Linked DNA regions of Homo sapiens. The protein of the gene in region 3 purifies or fractionates together with the protein of the main gene of each other region. This does not show direct contact. Each region holds a gene or a part of one and is shown on either strand. Other genes may lie near its edges.

Region 1 (7,112 bases), on a different chromosome or scaffold from region 3:
GTATGCTCCCAGCACCAACTCTTGCATGTAGCCAGTTCCTGAACAGTACCATCCTGACTTAACAGGAGGAAGAAAAGATAATGAAAGATTTGTGGGGTCAGGGAAGCAGAGAACCACCCTTGTTTAGAGCCTGACAGGAGTCTCAGACATCTAAGGACTCTTAATTTAAAGGAGGAGTCACTGGAAGAACTGTGCGTGATTCCTATGTCAATCTAGGTCTCAAAAAGATGCATCATTTACCTGGCTCAAACAAAGGATTGTACAAACAAATCAAAAAATGACTTGATGAAATGATTTAATAAAATAATTATCACATGTCAAGCATTTTTATAATATACATAGAGTCTTTAGTTCTATTTGACTGGGTCATAACATTTAAGAATTAAGTGATATCTCCATGTAGGATCCTTAGAGACGACTTGTTTCGGGGCAGGATGTGGTCAGGGGACATGCCATTGAAACAATACCCCAACTTGTCTTCCCACTCAATGACATTTCAAAATCAGAATAAACCCAAGAAGCTAAATAAAAACAGACTTACCCAATATTGCAGGAGTGCTTCTATAGCTCTAAACTCAAAAGGTAAAGGGTATGTAACGAGTTGACCCTCTCCAGACAACTGTGAAGGGAGTTCCCGGAACAGCCATTGCTCTAAGTTTAAATTACGATAATCTAATATCAGAAGACACTCTGGAGTTATCACAGCTTTCAAATACTGTTAAAAAAAAAAAAACCAAAACATATAAATATGTGAGTGTATATACACACATGCATGTATATACATATATATGTATACATACATATATATATGCAAATTGTAGAGCTGTAGGAAAAAAGAACATTCATAAAATTTGGTTTAATACTTTACTAATTGTGGATTAAGACTAAACCAAATCAGTGTTCATTTTTGTTTTTCAAAAAAATCAAGGTTTTTTTTTTCAAAAGAAAAGAAACTTAAAAAATATATGTCTTGATACTGCTAACTCACTCTCAATAAAACTGGAATTATTCACATAAATTATATATTTACTAAGACTTCTGGGGTAATCATGAAAAAAAAACAAAAACAAAAAAAAAAACACCAAAAAATACCCCCAGAAAGCCGGGCATGGTGGCTCATGCCTGTAATCCCAGCACTTTTGGAGGCTGAGGAAGGTGGATCATGAGGTCAAGAGATCGAGACCATCCTGGCCAACATGGTGAAACCCCGTCTCTACTAAAAATACAAAAATCAGTTAGGCGTGGTGGCCCACACCTGTAGTCCCAGCTACTTCAGAGGCTGAGGCAGGAGAATCGCTTGAACCTGGGAGGCGGAGTTTGCAGTGAGCTGAGATTGTGCCACTGCACTCCAGCCTGGCGACAGAGCGAGACTCCGTCTTTCTTTTTTGGAAAAAATAAATAAATAAATAAAGGGAACAAGATAAGGTCTTCCTAAAAGTCAGGTATTGAGCAGACTTTTAGAAAAGATTTAGTTTAATCATAATTAGTTTGGCACAAATGGAAGTTTCCTTTTTAAAACACCACTAAAGCATATAAACAAAATCTGAAATTAAGATGAAACATAGCCTTACTACTCTAATTTAGAACAATATGAAATTAGAATTTTTTCTAAAAAGACTGGTTATCTTGTATGTTAAAAGTAGATAAAGGTAGCCACTTTATCAGTGATATAGAAATTAGAGATAATTTTCTATTTTTACATTTTTCCAACATTCTATCATGAATTTTTTTTTCTTTTTTTTTTTTGAGATGGAAGTCTTGCTCTGTCACCCAGGCTGGAGTGCAGTGGGGCAATCTCGGCTCACTGCAACCTCCACCTTCAGGGTTCAAGCTATTCTCCTACCTCAGCCTCCTGAGTAGCTGGAATTACAGGCACCCGCCACCATGCCTGGCTAATTTTTGTATTTTTTAGTAGAGACGGGGTTTCACCATGTTGGTCAGGCTGGTCTCGAACTCCTGACCTCAGGTGATCCACCCCTCTCGGCCTCCCAAAGTGCTGGGATTACAGATGTGAGCCACCACAACCTAGCCTCATGAAAATTTTTATACAGAAAAGTTGAAAGATTGCAGTGAACACCATATACCCACCAGTTAGATTACACAATTATCATTCTGCTGAATTTGCTTTTTCACATACCTGTCTGTCTCTCCATGAAAGAGACACTGTTTTGAAGAATGCTAGCTACTGATTCCAAGAGTAGAGAATATTTCTGAAGAAAATCACATGGGAGAAGACTGCTTCATTTTTGATAAAGTATTTTTTATTTACTTATTTATTTTTAGAGATGGGATCTTGCTATGTTGCTTAGGCTGGTCACAAACTCCTGGTCTCTGGTGACCCTCCCACTTCAGCCTCCTGAGTAGCTGGGACTAAAGGCACATGCTACCAATACTGGCCCATTTTTTATTATTTTGATTAGTTCTAGAAAAATGAACAAAAATCTGCCATCAAAGACTCTTTGAAGAAAGTCTCATACCCACTACAGGGCCAATACCATTCATCTATTTTTGAACCTAAACATTAGCCCACCAAAATAACTGAAACCCACATTAACTCTGAATCACTAAAGAAAGTCAAATTATTATTTGGCATGCTCTGAATAGGTAAGGGAAAATACAATATATTTCAGAAAGTTTTCCATTAAAAAAATTTAAACTGGCCAGGCACGGTGGCTCATGCCTGTAATCCCAGCACTTTGGGAGGCAGAGGCAGGTGGATCACCTGAGGTCGGGAGTTTCAGAGCAGCCTGACCAACATGGAGAAACCCCATGTCTACTAAAAATACAAAATTAGCTGGGTTTGGTGGCTTATGCCTGTAATCCCAGCTACTCAGAAGGCTGAGGCAGGAGAATTGCTTGAACCTGGGAGGTGGAGGTTGCAGTGAGCCAAGATCGTGCCAGCCTGGGCAACAAGAGCAAAACTCCATCTCAAAAAAAAAATTAAGGCTATAAAATTTAATGTCTATTCCTGTGCTATTTAGAAAGCCAGAATACATTTTTGGTAGCTCAGGTTATACTATAATTACATGTAACTGTACACAATTGGATATATATCTATTATAAATCAGGATTGTCTTATAGTTTCCAGAACTAGAGAGTAAATCCCAACAGTGAGAATGAACACCACAGTCAGAGCTTTTCCAACTTAAAACACAGCAGTGTTATGCCTATTGAACATGTGCATATAATCCATATAAAATGAGTTCTACTCATAATAGCATATTAAGCTATAAAACATCCTATGTTTCAGGTAGCTATTTCTATTCCAAAATTACTTTTAACCTAGATACTAATCAAGATAGTTAGAAGGTAACTTTTATAAGATTGTATTGGAGAAACATAGATGAAAATAAAATATTTTACCTCCATTCTCATGATAATCCTATTGTTTCTGACTGTGATACTCATTACATGCTGAAATCTCAAATCTCTGGCTTGAAGACCTAACTCTTGGTATAATTCAGTTTTCTTCCTTTCTATAAAAGAAATAAACAGAGAGGGCTAAACCAAATACATTAAATGGCTTAGATTTTTCCATCAGAGCAGTCCTCCCACCACCATCAAGACAATTTTTGGTTACTACCAGAAACAAAAACTAAAATTAAGTCTTTTAATATCCATTTTTACCTAGAAAACATACTCGGGCTAAATAGAGTCAAACTAATGATTTTCTTATCTATACCTCATAACTTTCTCACTACTTAGAAGACCCTTGAGACTAATACAGAAACCACAACTATGCATCATTAGAACCTATAAATGTCCAGCTCTAGAGACAGGTTATCTCTCTTAAATATAAACTGTACACAACTATATTTTCTATTTTTACTACAACATCATCTTCAGTATTTTATATATGTGAACAGATAAGCTTGATTTTCTTTGTTCTTAGACTAATACAAAAATGAGAAAAGCTGAATTTATTACCTGAGACTGATTCATTCTCAAGGGAGATGTGAAACTCACATCTGAAGTCACACTGTAAAGTAATGCCTAGTCTCACTTTTTAAAGTAGCTGTCCACAGAGAGCCATCAGCAGCAGAGTTCCATGTGGCTGCCATGCAGTGACATGGCCCTGTTCATCTTTTGTCACCCACTGCAATGTCAGTGGTATTATGTGACTCTGCCTTAAACATGCTTCAGGAGAATGAATGAGGGCAGTGAAAGGGACGCCAACAAGAGAGACAAAAGAGAAAAAGAGTGTGTCTCTGGGCTCCAGTTCTACACCAGCCTCTGCTCTCCCAAATATTCCTTCAATAGCCTGTTAGAGCAAAAAGTGGCTCCTGCTAGAAGAAAACAATTCTGGGAGAATACACACAGTCTGAGTATTGCCAGCTCCAATTAAGACTGATGGACAAATGCTGAAGAAAGATCTCTTTCAACACACCTGTATATGCAAAGAATATTTTACTCAAAATACTACAATTTCTTGATTTCTATCAGATTCACTCATTAAATGTTTAAAAAATGATTTAGAATGCTAATCACTCACCAAAAGAAGTAACGTTTCCCTGTTTGTCAAATTTTGTCTGAAAATAGAGAATAAAACAAATTATGATTTTCTTTCAAATTAGAATGCTACTTATGGTATTGCTAATTTAGTTAAGAATTTATGGTATTGTAAGTAATATCCCCAAAATGTTGAAATGCAAATATAAACCATTACTGACCTTCTTTAGATTAAATCCAGTTATGAGTTAAGGGTTTTTTTAAAATCCTTTTTTCCTTTGATAGGAAAAATCAGACCTGGGTTTAACTTTCTATCTTGGTTCCTCTAGAAAGTTGATAAAGGAGTATCAGTTGTGTTGTTACTAGGTAACAATCCTTATGGTAAAAATGACCATTGACTGGTAGACTGCACTGGACTGGGAAGACGAACAAATTACAGTTATCAGGTGAAAAGCAATAGCTCTCTTTGCCCTTTCCTGATTGTGGTGGCTCTTGTGGCCATGTTCCCAGCCAGAATCCTGGACACTGTGCCCCTGCGATGGTTACAAGGGATACTGTCACTACGGGGCATGGGGATTCGAGCCAAGATGAATCTCACATCCACCTTTGAGAATCTTATCTCCTTGTCACTGAGCGATCACTCAGAGGACCAGAGAAGCCCCTGGATGGCTGCAAAGACTTCTTTTGAAGAGGAAACACCTAACACTACCCTGTTGTTTCTCCTGTCCCTTATCCTTCTGAGTAGACTGGGACCAAGTATGGCCCGCCTTGTGAATCTAAATGTCTACATGAGGCCAAAGTCTCTTTGGTGGGTGTTGCAGAATCAATAAAGATTTACAGAACCCCTTCTGATAGTTTGAAGAGAGGATTTGATACAGAAAATGCACCTATTTCCTGCAAAGTAGGGGACTATCTTTCAGTGATGTTTATCCACAGTCAAGTTTGAAGCTGTGAAACATTTAATGAATCACTATGTGCTGAGCTGTACTACTTACTACGACAGACACATTTCAGAAAGACACTCCAACATACAGGTTTAAGTACAATATAGGTCTTGGGTTACTACCATGGAAATATACATGCTGTGTTAATCACACAATAAAAACTCACAATATATATATTTTATCTTGCTTCTCATCAGCAAAAATAAAATTAATATGAATATATAAGTTCCATAGAACATTAAAGGAAAATTTATATCAAAGAAAGCTTTATATTTGTGTAATAGTCTAGCTTTCAGCCTTATATTTCACAAATACATAAACCCACTGCAGAAAATTTGAAAATAAATATACGTAACATAAAACTATATTAATCACCTGAAATGACAAATTTTAGAGAAAACCATGTCAATATTTCACTGAATATCCTTCCAAACATTTTCCTAATAAAACATACTTATACATACTGCTTTGCAGTCTCCCTCCTTCCAAATTAGCAACATATGCTGAATATTTTTGCATCTCAATATTTATATGTACCCTTTTTTTCTTTAATGGAACTTAAAAAAATTTTTTAAATCATACAAATTATAAAGAAAAAAATATTTACTTTGTAACCAGCTCACTTTCTAAACTATTTCAAACAGCACAAATTAAATTTTTCTTTCTCAGATTCCATAGCTTTATGAATTTCTTAAGTGTTCTTTGCAATTATTTCACCTGCAAAGAACTAACTTTCAGTATTTCACGTTTGACTTTGTATTCTTTTTTTGAGACAGAGTCTTGCTCTGTTGCCCAGGCTGGAGTGCAGTGGTGCAATCTTGGCTCACTGCAACCTCCACCTCCCAGGTTCAAGCGATTCTCCTGCCTCAGCCTCCTGAGTAGCTGGGACTACAGGCGTGCACCACCACGCCTGGCTAATTTTTTTGTTTTTTAGTAGAGACGGGGTTTCACCATGTTGGTCAGGCTGGTCTAAAACTCCTGACCTCAAATGATATGCCCACCTCAGCCTCCCAAAGTGTTGGGATTACAGGCGTGAGCCACCGTGCCTGGCCCTGATTTTGTATTCTTAACTAAATTGGCCAACTCTTCCAGAACAATGAATAACAGTGGTAACTTTTAAACGCAATTCTGGGGGTTATTTAATTTTATATAGTTTATAAAGAAAAGCTCTTATGTTAACAAGCCTAAATAATCCTAATGAAATATATTTGAGGCTTACTATATGTGAGGCACTAGTTTAAGGGCTTTCTATATATGAGTTAATTTAATCCTCATAACAATTCTATATGGTAGGTTATGCTCAGTTTTCAGATGAGAAAACTAAGGCACAAAGATGTTATTGTAACTTGTCCAAGGCCACCTAGTCAATAAGAGGCAGAGTGAGATTGGAATTTAGGAAGTCTGGCTCAGAATAGGCACACCTTTTTTTTTTTTTTTTTGAGATGGAGTCTCACTCTGTCTGCCAGGCTGGAGTGCAGTGGCATGATCCAGGCTCACTGCAAGCTCCGCCTCCTGGGTTCATGCCATTCTCCTGCCTCAGCCTCCCAAGTAGCTGGGACTACAGGCGCCCACCACCAGGCCTGGCTAATTTTTTGTATTTTTAGTAGAGATGGGGTTTCACTGTGTTAGCCAGGATGGTCTCAATCTCCTGACCTCATGATCTGCCCACCTCGGCCTCCCAAAGTGTTGGAATTACAGGCGTGAGCCACCACGCCCGGC
Region 2 (7,112 bases), on a different chromosome or scaffold from region 3:
CTGAGATCAGGAGTTTGAGACCAGCCTGGACAACATGGTGAAACCCTGTCTCAACTAAAAATACAAAAATTAGCCGGGAGTGGTGGCAGGCACCTCTAATCCCAGCTCCTCAGGGGGCCGAGGCAGGAGAATTGCTTGAACCCGGGAGGCGGAGGTTGCAGTGAGCCAAAATCAAGCCATCGCACTCCAGCCTGGGGGGCAAGAGCAAGACTTCGTCTCAAAAAAAAAAAAAAAAAAAGAAACAAGAAACAGTACTAAATATATACTTTGTGGCTATATTTCCAAGGAAAAGTTTTTCTTTTTAAATCAACTTTATCAAGGTCTAATTTTGCACACCATAAGTATATCATGTTGTACAAGTACCACCACAATCCAGTTTTAGAATGTTTTCATCACCCCAGTAAAATCCCTAATACCCGTTTACAATTAATCCTCATTCCTATCCTCAGCCCATTAGGGTGTACCTTCTGTTTCTATAGATTTGTCTTTTCTGTACATTTTATGTAAATGGAATCATATATCAAGAGAAAAATTTTAACTTCAGTAAAATACTTTTATAAGTCTTATAACCACTGAATTATTTTATTATTTATAATATATCAGATATTTATTCCCTTATTTACAGTTTCAAAACCCAGAGAATTTTGAAAACAAACTTTCAAAAAGTTTCTTGCCACAGCTAATTTGGCAGATTAGAAATTACAACCAGTAGAAAGAATGATTTTGCATGTTATAAAATTCACTTGTTAAAAAATGAGATGTAGCTGTTACCACAGTAACATTATATATGCATTCCAGAAAATACCTTTGTTCTGCAAAATGGTACATTTTTAAAAAACAAAACAAAACAGGCTTATGGGAAAAATAAGCTTGAGGTAGTCCATATAAAACCTGTGTAACTTTGTAATCAGAGGACTAGCAAAAACAATAATTGATGCCTCCACAAAATTTAAATAGGATTGGCAGGCAGCTGAGTGTGGCTGGAGGCTGTCTTAGGGAATATTAAAAATAAAATTGTGGGCTGGGCAGATTACACGCCTGTAATCGCAGCACTTTGGGAGGCCGAGGCGGGCAGATCACGAGGTCAGGAGATCGAGACCATCCTGGCTAACACAGTGAAAACCCATCTCTACTAAAAAAAAAAAAAAAAATTAGCCAGGCATGGTGGCAGGCACTGGTATTCCCAGCTACTTGGGAGGCTGAGGCAGGAGAATGGCGTGAACTCGGGAGGCGAAGCTTGCAGTGAGCCGAGATTGCGCCACTGCACTCCAGCCTGGGCGACAGAGCGAGACTCCATCTCAAAAAAATAAAATAAAATAAAATCGTGGAGGTGGTGCGCACCTGTAGTCCCCAGCTACTTGGGAGGCCGAAGTGGGAGGATCACTTGAGCCCAGGAGGTTGAGGCTGCAGTGAGCCAAGATTGCACCACTGCATTCCACCATGGGCGACAGAGTGAGACCCTGTCTCAAAAATAAACAAATAAAAATAAAAGTCATGGATTGAAAATGTTAGCCAGTGGGTTCTGAGTCAGTGCAGATGGTAGCAAGCTCTGAGCCAGTGGGACTGTTATTAAGTAGCAACTAGGAGGAAATGCAACCCAACAGAGTCATGGATCCACTCTGAGGCACGAATTGCTGGTGTAGGGAGTTATTTACACTTTTCTTATGAATAGATCTGAAAGCATATCTACCTGTGTGATAACTGAGTTGATGACTTTCTTTTTCTTGATGAAAGTTATACTTCCATTATAATTATAGCTTGTCTTGCCTAATATTAACTAATACAACTATAACATTTTTCTGACATTATTTCCTTTTTTAGCAATCGCATATAAGCATATTTGGTTTTATAAAAACACATGTTGGCCAGATGCGGTGGCTCACTCCCAGCACTTTGGGAGGCTGAGGCAGGTGGATCACCTGAGGTCAGGAGTTCCAGACCAGCCTAACCAACAAGGAGAAACCCTATCTCTACTAAATATACAAAATTAGCCGGGCATGGTGGCACATGCCTGTTAATCCCAGCTACTCAGGAGGCTGAGGCAGGAGAATCACTTGAACCCGGGAGGTGGAGGTTGTGGTGAGCTGAGATTGTGCCATTGCACTCCAGTCTGGGCAACAAGAGCGAAACTCCATCTCAAAAAAAACAAAAACAAAAACAAAAAAAAACATGTTATAGCAGAATAGACGAGACCAGCAGTTTATATTTGGCATTTACATACATCAGAAATCTTTTTTTTTTTTTTTTTTGAGGCGGAGTCTTGCTCTGTCGCCCAGGCTGGAGTGCAGTAGCATGATCTGGGCTCACTACAAGCCCCACCTCCCGGGTTCATGCCATTCTCCTGCCTCAGCCTCCCGAGTAGCTGGGACTACAGTTGCCCGCCGCCACGCCCAGCTAATTTTTTGTATTTTTTAGTAGAGACGGGGTTTCACCGTGTTAGCCAGAATGGTCTGTATCTCCTGACCTCGTGATCCGCCCGCCTTGGCTTCCCAAAGTGCTGGGGTTACAGGTGTGAGCCACTGCGCTCGGCCCAGAAATCTTTTTAATTACACTTGATTAAGGAATCATTTCATTGATTTTAAATTTTTCTGCAAATCCTTGGACAAGCCAGAAATATGGTAGATATTGGTGGTTTGATGTTCAAAAATGTGATGGAAGCCGGGTGTGGTCTCTCATGCCTGTAATCCCAGCACTTTGGGAGGCTGAGGTGGCCAGATCACTTGAGGCCAGGAGTTTGAGACTAGCCTGGCCAACTTGGTGAAACCCCATCTCTACTAAAAATACAAATATTAGCCAGGTGTAGTGGCAGGCACCTGTGGTCCCAGCTACTCGGGAGGCTGAGGCAGGAGAATCGCTTGAATCTGGGAGGCGGAGGTGGCAGTGAGCTGAGATCATGCCACTGTGCTGCAGCCTGGGCAACAGAGGGAGACTCCATGTCAAAAAAAACGGGGGCGGGGGATGGAAGTTCCTGTTTACTAATTTTTCATGTCATTTTGCTTTATAACAATTGGCATTACTGTGTTACCAGATAGATTTCTTACTGGATTAGACCCTGTACGTTTTTGTTGCCACTTTCCTTGGTGCTTTGAGCTTTTATCTTTTTTTTTTTTGAGATGGAGTCTCACTCCATCACCCAGGCAGGAGTGCAGTATCATGATCTCTGCTCACTGCCACCTCCTCCTCTCGGGTTCAAGCCATTCTCCTCTCTCAGCCTCCCAAGTAGCTGGAATTACAGGCGCCCTCCACCACACCCAGCTAATTTTTTTTTTTTGTATTTTTAGTAGAGACGGGGTTTCGCCGTGTTGGCCAGCCTGGTCTCAAACTCCTGACCTCAGGTGATCCACCCGCCTTGACCTCCCAAAGTGTTGGGATTACAGGCATGAGCCACTGCGCCCGAACGAGTTTTTATCTTCATTTGAAAAGACAGATACCTAAAAAATTATTTATATTTGATTATATATGGTTTGGAATCTTCTTTAAGCCACATAAAATCAAGAAATTAGGCTGATGGTACTTCTTTTGAAAGAGTAAATGAAGAGAGGTCTGCCAATGATGCATCAGAGTACTGAGAGCTTTCTGAGGATCATAAGTGAAGCCATTGTTATATATTAGCATTGACTTAGCACTCATGGCTTGGTAATATGTGTGTAGGCTGCTTTTGTGCTAATGGTGTTTGTTGTCATTTTTATCACACATATTTATGAACAACCACAACTATGTACCTGGAACTGTATTATTTGAAGAAAGATATATCATAAGCAAGCCAGAAATAGTTCTTGTGCATAGAGCTTATAATCTAGCAGAAAGGGGGACATTTTACAAGTAATTCAGTGTGGCGATGTTGCAAAAGAGAAGATATCAGTGTTTTTGGACTAACAGGGACTGAACCAAGTTGAGTATTTGAGGAAGCCTTTGATGCTTTTTATTCAATGCTGAATTTTTTTTTTTTTTTTTTTTTGAGACAGGTTCTCACTCTGTCACCCAGGCTGGAGTGCAGTGGCACGATCTTGGCTCACTGCAACCTCTGCCTCCCTGCAACCTCCACCTCCTGGGTTCAAGCAGTTCTCCCACTTCAGCCTCCTGAGTAGCTGGGACTACAGGTGCACGCCACCACGCCTAGCTAATTTTTGTATTTTTAGTAGAGATAGGGTTTCACCATGTTGGCCAGGCTGGTCTTGAACTCCTAGCTTCAGGTGATCCACCTGCCTCGGCCTCCCAAAGTGCTGGAAATTTGTTTGTTTGTTTGTTTGTTTGTTTTTTGAGACGGAATCTGGTTCTGTTGCCCAGGCTAGAGAGCAGTGGAGCCATCTCAGCTCACTGCAGCCTCCTCCAGGGTTTTCAAGTGATTCTCCTGCCTCAGTCTCCAGAGTAGCTGGGACTATAGGCACACACCACCACGCCTGGCTAATTTTTGTATTTTAAGTAGAGACAGCGTTTCACCATGTTGGCCAGCCTGGTCTCGAACTCCTGACCTCAAGTGATCCATCCACCTCGGCCTCCCAAAGTGCTGGGATTACAGGCATGAGCCACCACACCTGGCCTCAAAGCTGATTTTTATCATTCAAGCCAAAATGATAAGTCAGATGGAGGAAAAATGCATGTGAGCCATGCTCTTTACTTCCTATGAACACACACTTCCATTACCACAGACTAAAACATTCTGCCATCTTAGACATTCCGATTCTTAAGGATTCCTAATTTAAGAGATTACTCTGTATTTAATTTTTATATTCTCAATACAGATTGCTTTTAATTTATTCCCAGAAAATGTATTAGTAAATAATTACATTTTAATCTTAATTTGAGGTTATTTTATTAATATAAATTAATAAATCATTTTAATTTTTTACAGCCTGTCAGAGTTGTTCAGTATAATATCAATACAGAAGAATTATATTCCTACCTAAAGGAATTCATCCACATACTATATTTCAGGTAAGATACATTTTGTTTTCTAGCTTTTATGATTAGATAGATTTTCCTAATGCCATAGTGATAATTGGTTGTGTTACAGCTGAGGCCAAAAAAAAAAAAAATGGACTTCTATTGCCATTTTTACATGCTTATTTTCAACCTTTTCAAAAATATATTTGAAGACTAGAAAACTGGCAGACATAAAGAGATACTGAAAATGAAATATTCATTAATGAAGTGAACTGATAATTAAATTATTCTACATTCATACAGTGAAATACCATGCAGCTCTTTAAAAAGAGTTCTGCATCTGTATGTAGTAGTACAGGAAGGTGTGTGGGATATATTGATAAGTGAAATAAGCAAGTTAAAGAACCACATCTATGGAATGAGTATTTCTGTTAAAACATACCCCCATACATCCATAAGAATGAAAAAAAATACAAACTTCTATCAGTGATAGTTCTGAGTAGTAGAGATATAAGGTTCTTGTACTTTGCAAGTTTTACGTGTCATAATATTTGGAGCTTTGTGAGCATATATTACTATTGTAACCTAAAAAAAAAGAAAATATCGCCAGGTGCTGTGGCTCACATCTGTAGTACCAGCTACTCAGGAGGTTGAGATCAGGGGATGGCTTGAACCCAGGAGGCTGAGGTTGCAGTGAGGTGAGATTGCCCCTCTGCACTCCAACTTGGGCAACAGAGCCAGATCCTGTCTCAAAAAAAAAAAAAAAATCTATATAATGGCTCAAGTTGGTAATCATAGTAGGCTATAATTTTAGGTTTCTGAGATAAGTAAGTTAATGAATTTCCTAGCACACTGCACGGTACATAGTAAGAGGTCAGAAATGTTATCTTTCTGGGGTAATAAAATGAAGATGTCTTTTTGTGATAAAATATCTTAAGCTAAGGTAGTACAGTTTCACTGTTCTTAAATTGTATGACTTAACAAAATGAATAAAAACTTTTACTTTTAAAACCAAAACTTTCACTTTTCAGGCATCTATTGGTGAATCCCAGAGACCGCCGAGTTGTGATTATCGAATCGGTATTATGTCCTTCTCACTTCAGAGAGACACTCACTCGTGTTCTTTTCAAATATTTTGAGGTACCTGTCTTTATATCAAATAAGTAAATTGCTTTTGAAATAAAAAGAGAAGCAATAAAATTCTTACCAATTTTTAGGGAATCTTTCTTCTCTTTTTTTTTGTTGGTAGGTACTCAAAACTTAAACTAATAAAAGCCCTTATTTTGTCTCATATTGTGTATGGCACACAGTGTAGTTGGGGAACCAGATGACAGAAGATTCTTCAAACTGGCCATTTATTTTCTTCCTTTGTGTGGTTATTTCATGCTTTAGCATTTCATCCAACACTTACATAATTGGATATTTCTTTTTATTACTGTTTATTTATTTTAATATAGGTTTTTCTATTTGGGGACTTTTTTTTATTCAGAATTAAAAGGTATATTCTGTGCTGTGGACTTTGCAATGTATTTCTTCCAGATCTTTCTAGCTTCCATTGTTTAGTTGTACTGTTCTGAATTTTGTCATTTTAGGCTTCAAATTCCTTTAAAATGGAATATTCAGTGCCTCCCTTAGAGTAAGTTGGTAATGCCAGGAATGAGACTTACCTCATAATATAAGTAATATTACCTGTAGCTTTGATTTTATAGGAATCAGGATTATTTTATCACCAAGAATATGTTTTAAGATTAGTATATTTCATAGTAGACCAGAATCTTAATTATTCAAATTTTTAAAAATCTTTGCCTTAAAATTTAGGTTTTATCAGCAAGGGAAAATGTAAGATTATATGTATTAAGTGAATAAGAAATTAAGCACATATAAATGTATTTTCATACATTTACTGAATTCAAAACATACCTAATACCAAAAATCACAATGTCTTTATGAGGTAAAGGCACTTAATATTTCTAAGTTATATTTTTGTAAAGCAGGTACAGGGAATCAGGTTGCATAGCCTCCAGTACCTACTGATGTCATGAGTCCAGGAATTTCATTTGTAGTAAGGAGAACATAAAGCAAAACAAGAAGTCGTGTCAGCTGTTATCTGAATAAAGTAGAATATTCTCTGTATTTATAATTAGAGTTTGTGTTAATATCTTCTATATGACTAGAATACCTACTTTATTTAGATAAGGGGAATACAGCCATTATTTTGTCTGCCATTC
Region 3 (7,199 bases):
TGTGGCACCTGAACATGTACTTTTCTTGTTTTGAATTGAATTACATATTTACATTACAAAAAATATATATGCAGCATTTCTGTATGTTCCAGAAAATTTATGGGATCTCGGGAAAGCTTTAACCCCTTTAGATCTGGCTTCCTCATCCTAAGACTGTAGGGAAGATTAAACATGTTAATCCTTGTAAAGCACTTAGAACAGTGCCTGGTTCACAAGTACTCAGTAGGTGTTTTGATAAGTATTCCTGCTTCTGTTCAGTTCTTTTTCTTAACCAGGCCTGGTCCATCATCTTTATATATTTAAATTTTACTTTTCAAATAACCAAAACAATAACAATTAAAACATTTAGATTCTTCTCCTCTTCCCACCCCTTAAAGCAAACTTAACATGAGAAGGTATTTTATCATCTTAAAAAAAAAGTCTTATAATGAATTAAACTCATTATATTAATTATTCAATTCCTACAAATGCAAAATTATGAAAATTCCTTTGAAACAATTGGCTTATGACTACTAAGCTCATTAATGATCTATCAAAATTATCACTCAGAAAAGCATCACAAAAGCTTCGGGTCAAGGACACCCCAGGCCCTGAAAGGGATTTCTCAGTACCATCCCAGAATATTTCTATAGCACAACAGCCGACAGCCATTAAAAACAGTGAAGAACTTCAAAGTGTGCTAAATTGGAAAACCACCAAAACAGTAATACAGAACAGAACATACATGTTGAGATCCTGCCTAAGTAAAACAAAGGATATAGGTGTGTGTGTGTGTGTGTGTGTGTGTGTGTGTGTGTGTATGCACACAGACATGCAAGGGAGAGAGAGAGAGAGGGAGAGAGAGGCAGGGAGGTAGAGATTATGTATATATAGAACATTTCTGGAAGAACACTCATAAAACTGTTAACGTAGGTTATATAAAATGTTTTTGAGCAAGAAAGTGACAAGATCAGATCTGTGTCAGCAGATTCACATGGCTACTGAGTGGGATGGGGTGCTGAGGGCTGGAAGCAATTGGGAGAGACTGAAGCCAAGAGACCCATTTAAAGGACATTGCAATTGTCAGGTAGGAGTTGATGGGGGCCTGTTCTGAGGCAGTGAGATAGAGCAAAGGACAAAAAAGGAAATTAGATTCACTTTAGAAAGCCACCCAATTGCAGCCCCAGGGCCTAGCACAGTACCTACTGGTACTAGGTGCTCAATAGGAAAGAAATGGTCTCCTGCGTGAAAGACTTATAATTTTAATTTTCAAAGTCATCCCACTGGGCACCTGAACATGACAACCCCACTGGCCCCTTCACCCTCTTCTCACGAGTTCATTCCCTCAGCCCTGGGCCTGGGGAGCTGGGTTGTGGGGACAGGTCCACAGGCAGGTGAGTCCAGGGCTCAGGCCTCTACCTGTGCCCCTTGCTGGCCCTGCCCACCCAGGAGGTCCCTGCTGCATCCCCATGGTCCCACTCAGATCTATTCCTACACGCACACACACACACACACACACACACACACACACACACACACCCGCTACAAACACTTACATTTAGGAATTGCTTAAAATATATATTTTTAATGAGTGAAACAATGGAAGAGAGTGAGCAGAAGGATGAGGGTCTCATAAGTGTGGCATCTGATGATAGGTTGCAGGAAACAGCCAAAATTCCCAGAAGACAGAGCACTCAGCGGACACCTCTTCAACCTCGGCATGCAGGAAGGCTCTGTTGGAAGGCTTTGGTGGCAAGGGACAGAGAGGGGAAAGAGGGAGTTAATGCACTTATTTTAATATCTCTTGAGCCTAATGCGGGATCTGGTTTATAGTGCCCTGCTCAAATGTTTGTTGAATGAATGAAGGAAAGGTTGGATAAATGGGTGGATGGCTGGGTGGATGGCTGGATGGATATATGGGTAAATGGATGAGTGGATGGATGGATGGTGGATGGATAGATGGATGGGTGGATGGGTGGATGGATGGCTGGATGGATATATGGGTAAGTGGATGAGTGGATGGATGGATGGTGGATGGATAGATGGATGGGTGGATGGGTGGATGGATGGGTGGATGACTGGATGGGTGGATGGGTGGATGGATGAATGGGTGGGTGGATGGGTGGATGAGTAGATGGATGGGTAGATGGATGTGTGGATAAGTGGGTGGATGTGTGGATGAGTGGGTGGATGAATGGATGAGTAGGTGGGTGGGTGGATTGGTGGGTGGATGGGTGGGTGGATGGATGGATAGATGGTGGGTGGATGGATGGATGGGTGAAGGGATGGATGGTGGATGGATGGATGGTGGATGGATGGGTGGATAGATGGATGGGTGGATGGGTGGATAGATGGATGGGTGGATGGGTGGATAGATGGATGGGTGGATGGATGAATGGGTGGGTGGATGGGTAGTTGAGTAGATGGATGGGTAGATGAATGGGTGGATGAGTGGGTGGATGAATGGATGAGTAGATGGTTGGGTAGATGAATGGGTGGATGAGTGGGTGGATGAATGGATGAGTAGATGGTTGGGTGGATGGATGGATGGATGGATGGATGGATGGATGGATGGATGGATGGTTGGATGGATAGATGGTGGGTGGATGGATGGATGGAAGGGTGGGTGGATGGATGGGTGGGTGGATGGAAGTGTGGATGGGTGGATGGATGGGTGGATGGGTGGATAATGGATGGATGGATGGGTGGATGGATGGGTGGATGGGTGGATGATGGATGGATGGGTGGATGGATGGTGGATGGATGGATGGACGGATGGATGGGTGGATGGGTGGATGGATGGGTGGATGGGTGGATGGATGGGTGAGAGAATAGATGAGAGACTACTTCAATCTGGCTTTCAGGGACAAAACTGAAACCCATGTTTTGTGGCAATCAGATGGCTGTGGGAACTTTCAAAGATGGCCCTCAGGGACCCCCACCCCTGGTATTGTGCCCTGTGTAATCCCCTACCTTTGAGTGTAGGCTGTGCCTGATGACTTCCTTCTAACGAGTAGAATATGCCAGAAGTGATGGAATATCACATCCTTGAGTATATTACAAAAGACTGACCTACCTCTTCCCAGACTCTCTCCATAGCCCTCTCTGATGCAACGAGCTGCCAGGGCGGAGAGGCCCACATGGCAAAGGACTGATAGTGGCCACAGCTGACAGCTGAGAGGGGCTGAGGCCTTCATCCTACAGCCCTAAGAAACTGAATCCTGCCAACACCAGCAGCTTGGAAGTGGATCCCCCCTAGTGGAGCCATGAGATGAGACCTCAGCCCCTCCAACACTTGGATGGCAACTTATGAGAAACCCTGAGCAGAGAACCCAGCCAAGCAGTGCCCAGACTTCTAGCCACAGAAACTGAGATGACAAATGAGTGTTATTTCAAGCCACACACTTTGAGTTAATTTGTTTCCAGAACAGATAGCTAAAACAAACGCTGATTTGAGTTTTATATAAAGATGGATGATGTAGCAATTAAACTTGGCAAATGATGGTAGTGGTTTTGATACTAGTTGGCTTGGGTTTGAATCCTGGATCCCCAACTTACTAGCTGTGGGGCTTTGAGCAAGATGATCAATTTCTTGAGCCTCTGTTTCTGCATCTTTAAAATGGGCATGATTCTCTGGTCATAGTGACAACACAAGGATTACATAGATTATGTAATGTACTTAGCCCAGTGCCTGTCATGTAGTAAGCACTGGATTAAAGGAAGCTATTAGAGGGAATAATAATAATAATAATAATAATAATAATAATAATAATAATGGAGCAAGATGCCTTACAAAGCAGTGAGTGTTCCATGCCTGGAAGTGATTGAGTTAAGGCCAGATGGCCATGGCAGGAAGTGACTAGAACCCTGGAGGACCCCAAAGCCTCTCCCAAATCTCAGATTTGAGGGCCGTGCAGCTGGCTTGGCCAATGCTTGGGGTTGGTGGGCCAGCTGAGCCACGGGCCCCTCTTGGTGTGACCATCAGCATTATCTTGCACTGGGCGGGCGGCGGGTATTCCAGCCATGCCCAGCCTTCCCCTCAGATAGCCCTTCCCTCCTGCACCACTTTTGTGTCAGGTATGTGGCTGCCACCCTGGCTCAACCCATGGGGCCCAGGAAGGTAAACACCCAGCCGGGAAGTGATCGTTATGGGCTCGTGGCCAGCTATGGGCCAAGGCAGGTCTAAAGGTCGGGAATGCTTACCAGTGAAGCTTTTCCAGGACAGGACGAAGTTTTTGGCTGTGGGCTCTCTGGGACAGAGTGGAGCGCCTGTGGATTTAGCCGGGGACACACCATCCTGCTCGCAGGTGCCTGGACAGGACAGGGGACGAGGGAGGAACACTCTCTGAGGAAGCCCAACTCCTATGAGCTCCTCTCTGGCAGGTGAGAGAATGGTTTTGGTATTTTTTAAAAAAATAAAATGAGATAAAACAAGAGAAGGAACAGAGGCTACCGCTAGGACAGGTAGGAAAGGAGATTACCACCCATCCATTCACTGAGGAGGAGCCCCCAAGAGAAACAGCAGCCCTGGATTCCACCCGAGGGATCCTGTCTGGTCTCGGCTTCAGCACTGCCCCTCCTGGCACTCAGTTTCACCATCTGGGAATCAGGATAAGGACTCCTTCCAGGCGCTCTTCCATTATGGCTGTGGGGTAAGTGAGATCAAAAGCAGGAATGGCTGCATAATTGCAGGGCCCTGTGCAATATAAAAATGCAGGGCCCCTTGTTAAAATAGTAAGGCTTTCAAAAGGACAACAACACAGCATTAAAGCAAGCCGGGGCACCTTCTAAGAACAGGGCCCTGTGACTGCCCAGGCCCCACACCCACGACGCCAGTCCTGATAATGAGCGTATATGTAAACGGAAGTGCCCTGATTCCTGTGTGCCATGGCACAAATCTCAGGGTCAGGAAGTGCACTTGGGAAACAGAAGTCATAGTCGTGAAGTGACAGCCCACTGCGCTTTAGCTCCCCCAGCACTGCCCCCTCCGCTCAGGGGCCCCTTTCAGAAAGACAGAAGGCCCTACCCCTCAGAACCTTCCTGATTTTTGCATCTGGCTGGCCTCAAGCCACAGCACGGTGTGACTGAAATGTGTAGGGACACAGTTTTCTTGGATGTGAAAGTGGTAGGTTCTTATTGTCTATCTTGATTTAAAATTTGGGACAGTCACACAGTCTCTGGCTGTGTAGAGGTGGGACTTGTGTTTCCTGGGCTCGTGACAGCTCTGCTATGTTCCATTGACTATCAGTGTATTTCTGCTTTTTGGGAAAATCCTTAATGCAATAAGGCCACTGGTGGGAATGTTCCAGCTTGGACACTTGCCATGTGTCTTTGTCCTCCCTGCCCCTTCTCTCTTTCTCTCTCTCTCTCTCTCTTTTTCCATTTAGGCTTCCCCTTTGCCCATGTCTCAGGCTGCCCCTTGGCACTGCTTAGCTCTGAGGAAGTAGAAGCCAGGGTCCCCTTGGGGGTCAAGCTTTCTGGTCCATGAAGGGAGACCACAGACCACCTCCCTCCACCGCACTCTCCTCCCACATCCCTTTCTGGAGCCCAAATTGTCATGGGAACCCCTCCCAGGGAGGGGATCCCCACAGGAAAGCCAGGGGTTGATCCAATGACAGTGTGAGTAACATTCCACAGCTTTCTGCCCCAGTGGGGCTGGGGACACAGATGAGGCTAGACATGGGGGAAGATGAATTGCTTTAAGAAGAGCTGATGCATGCCTGTAGTCTCAGCCACTCAGGAGGCAGAGGCAGGAGGGCTGCTTGAGCCCAGAAGTCATGCGGTGGGCTATGATCATATCACTGCATTCCAACCTGGGCAACCTGGCAAGACTCTGTCTCTGTTCCTTTTTTTTTTTTTTTTTCATTGCTTTAAGAACTTCCCTTGGCCTGTGGGAGACCGGAAGCTTGTACCAGTAACAAAATAGCCCAGATGTTGTGGGGCCACCCAGAGCCTCTCAGAGGAGACCAAACCTAACCACCCAAGCCTGCTGGCTCTACCAGGGGCGCAGGAGCTGCTGTTTGTCCCAAGAAGCTGGTGAGCCACCAGCACCAAGTCGGACATCCCGTCTCCCAAGATGACGTCCCTTCCCCATCTACATGGGCCCATTGCTTCCCGAGTAAGGAGTCAGCTCTGATGCTCTGAAGTCACCCCCCAGCACAACCCCAATGGCAAAAATTCCTTTACTCCTTCATAGATAATTGCTGTGCACAGTGTATGTGTGAGGCTTTGAAGTGGGGCTGGGGACACAGATGGGACAATGGTGGCCCTCAGGCTAGTGGAGATGAAGCGATGCTGTGTCCCACACCCCCGAGGCCAGGCCAGAAACCCCGCTTGGTGAAAAGAGCACACCAGCCCTCTCACCCCAACAACGGTGATAGGATCCTGAGGCTGAGAGGCACCGTGGCCCAGCGGAGCAGGGGGTTCCATCTCTGAGCCTGGATGGGCTGCCTCTTTTCAGACCCCCCTTCTCCCCGCACCTAAGCCCCCTCTGCTACCATGATGGTGTCTTCAGGAGGCTGCTGGGCCTCAGGAAAAATTCCTTCCCTTGGCCTGGGACCACCTCTCCCCACCTTGGGAGAGGTCAGACCAGGGGGTGGAATTCTGCCTCCAGACTGGAGGACCCACCCCAGAAGGCTGAGGACTTCAGCCTTACTCCTCCTCCCTTTGTTTGGCAGCCATCCTGGAGGCCAGGGCCGTGGGAGACCACATGGGGTCTGAGCACTGAGGAGGGGCCATTTGCTGGAGCACCCTCTGTGGGCTGCTTTTGGGAAACTAGCTCAGGTGGTTGATTAAGGACCTGGGAGCCTGGGTGAGGCCATCTCACAATCTTCCTGCCTCAACTCACTTTGCCTGTGGACAAGGAAAAAAAAAAATCACACGTTCAAATGAGGAGGATGGGCACCATCAAAGGGATGGATGATCAGCAAGGCCTGCATGGAGGAGGTGGCCTCTGAGCTGGCCATCATTCAACAATCTTCCATCACTTATTAATGATTTTCCAGGAGGAGGAGAAGAACTGGGGGTGTGGTTTGATGTATTATAAAGCAAGCATTACTACCTTGAAAATAAGGTAGTAATTCTTTTCACACTCACTCAGAATGAATGCTCCAGGTTCTCTAAATAGCATACGTTCACAGATAGCACATTCCAGGTGAAGGGACAGCAGGGTTTTAGCAAAAGGGAGGGAGCCCTGCAGTAAGGGTTGGGCCAGTGGAGGC

Evidence for each region.
Region 1: the proteins of NGEF (region 3) and MRS2 purify together in Homo sapiens (affinity purification with mass spectrometry; 2 studies listed by BioGRID and IntAct, with this or other methods). This does not show direct contact.
Region 2: the proteins of NGEF (region 3) and ACTR10 purify together in Homo sapiens (affinity purification with mass spectrometry; 2 studies listed by BioGRID and IntAct, with this or other methods). This does not show direct contact.

Annotation. Positions count from the first base shown.
Region 1 is NC_000006.12:24,405,825-24,412,936, reverse strand, and holds part of MRS2 (magnesium transporter MRS2 homolog, mitochondrial isoform b precursor), read right to left. Parts: intron 4,530-7,112; coding exon 4,493-4,529; intron 3,477-4,492; coding exon 3,364-3,476; intron 2,211-3,363; coding exon of another isoform or gene 2,138-2,210; intron 716-2,137; coding exon 542-715; intron 1-541. UniProt on the Homo sapiens protein: Magnesium transporter that mediates the influx of magnesium into the mitochondrial matrix and regulates magnesium metabolism. Also permeable to calcium, sodium and potassium ions.
Region 2 is NC_000014.9:58,203,084-58,210,195, forward strand, and holds part of ACTR10 (actin-related protein 10), read left to right. Parts: intron 1-4,852; coding exon 4,853-4,935; intron 4,936-5,915; coding exon 5,916-6,024; intron 6,025-7,112. UniProt on the Homo sapiens protein: Part of the dynactin complex that activates the molecular motor dynein for ultra-processive transport along microtubules.
Region 3 is NC_000002.12:233,010,231-233,017,429, reverse strand, and holds the start of NGEF (ephexin-1), read left to right. Parts: upstream 1-4,173; 5' UTR 4,174-4,362; exon of another isoform or gene 4,363-4,816; intron 4,817-7,199. UniProt on the Homo sapiens protein: Acts as a guanine nucleotide exchange factor (GEF) which differentially activates the GTPases RHOA, RAC1 and CDC42. Plays a role in axon guidance regulating ephrin-induced growth cone collapse and dendritic spine morphogenesis.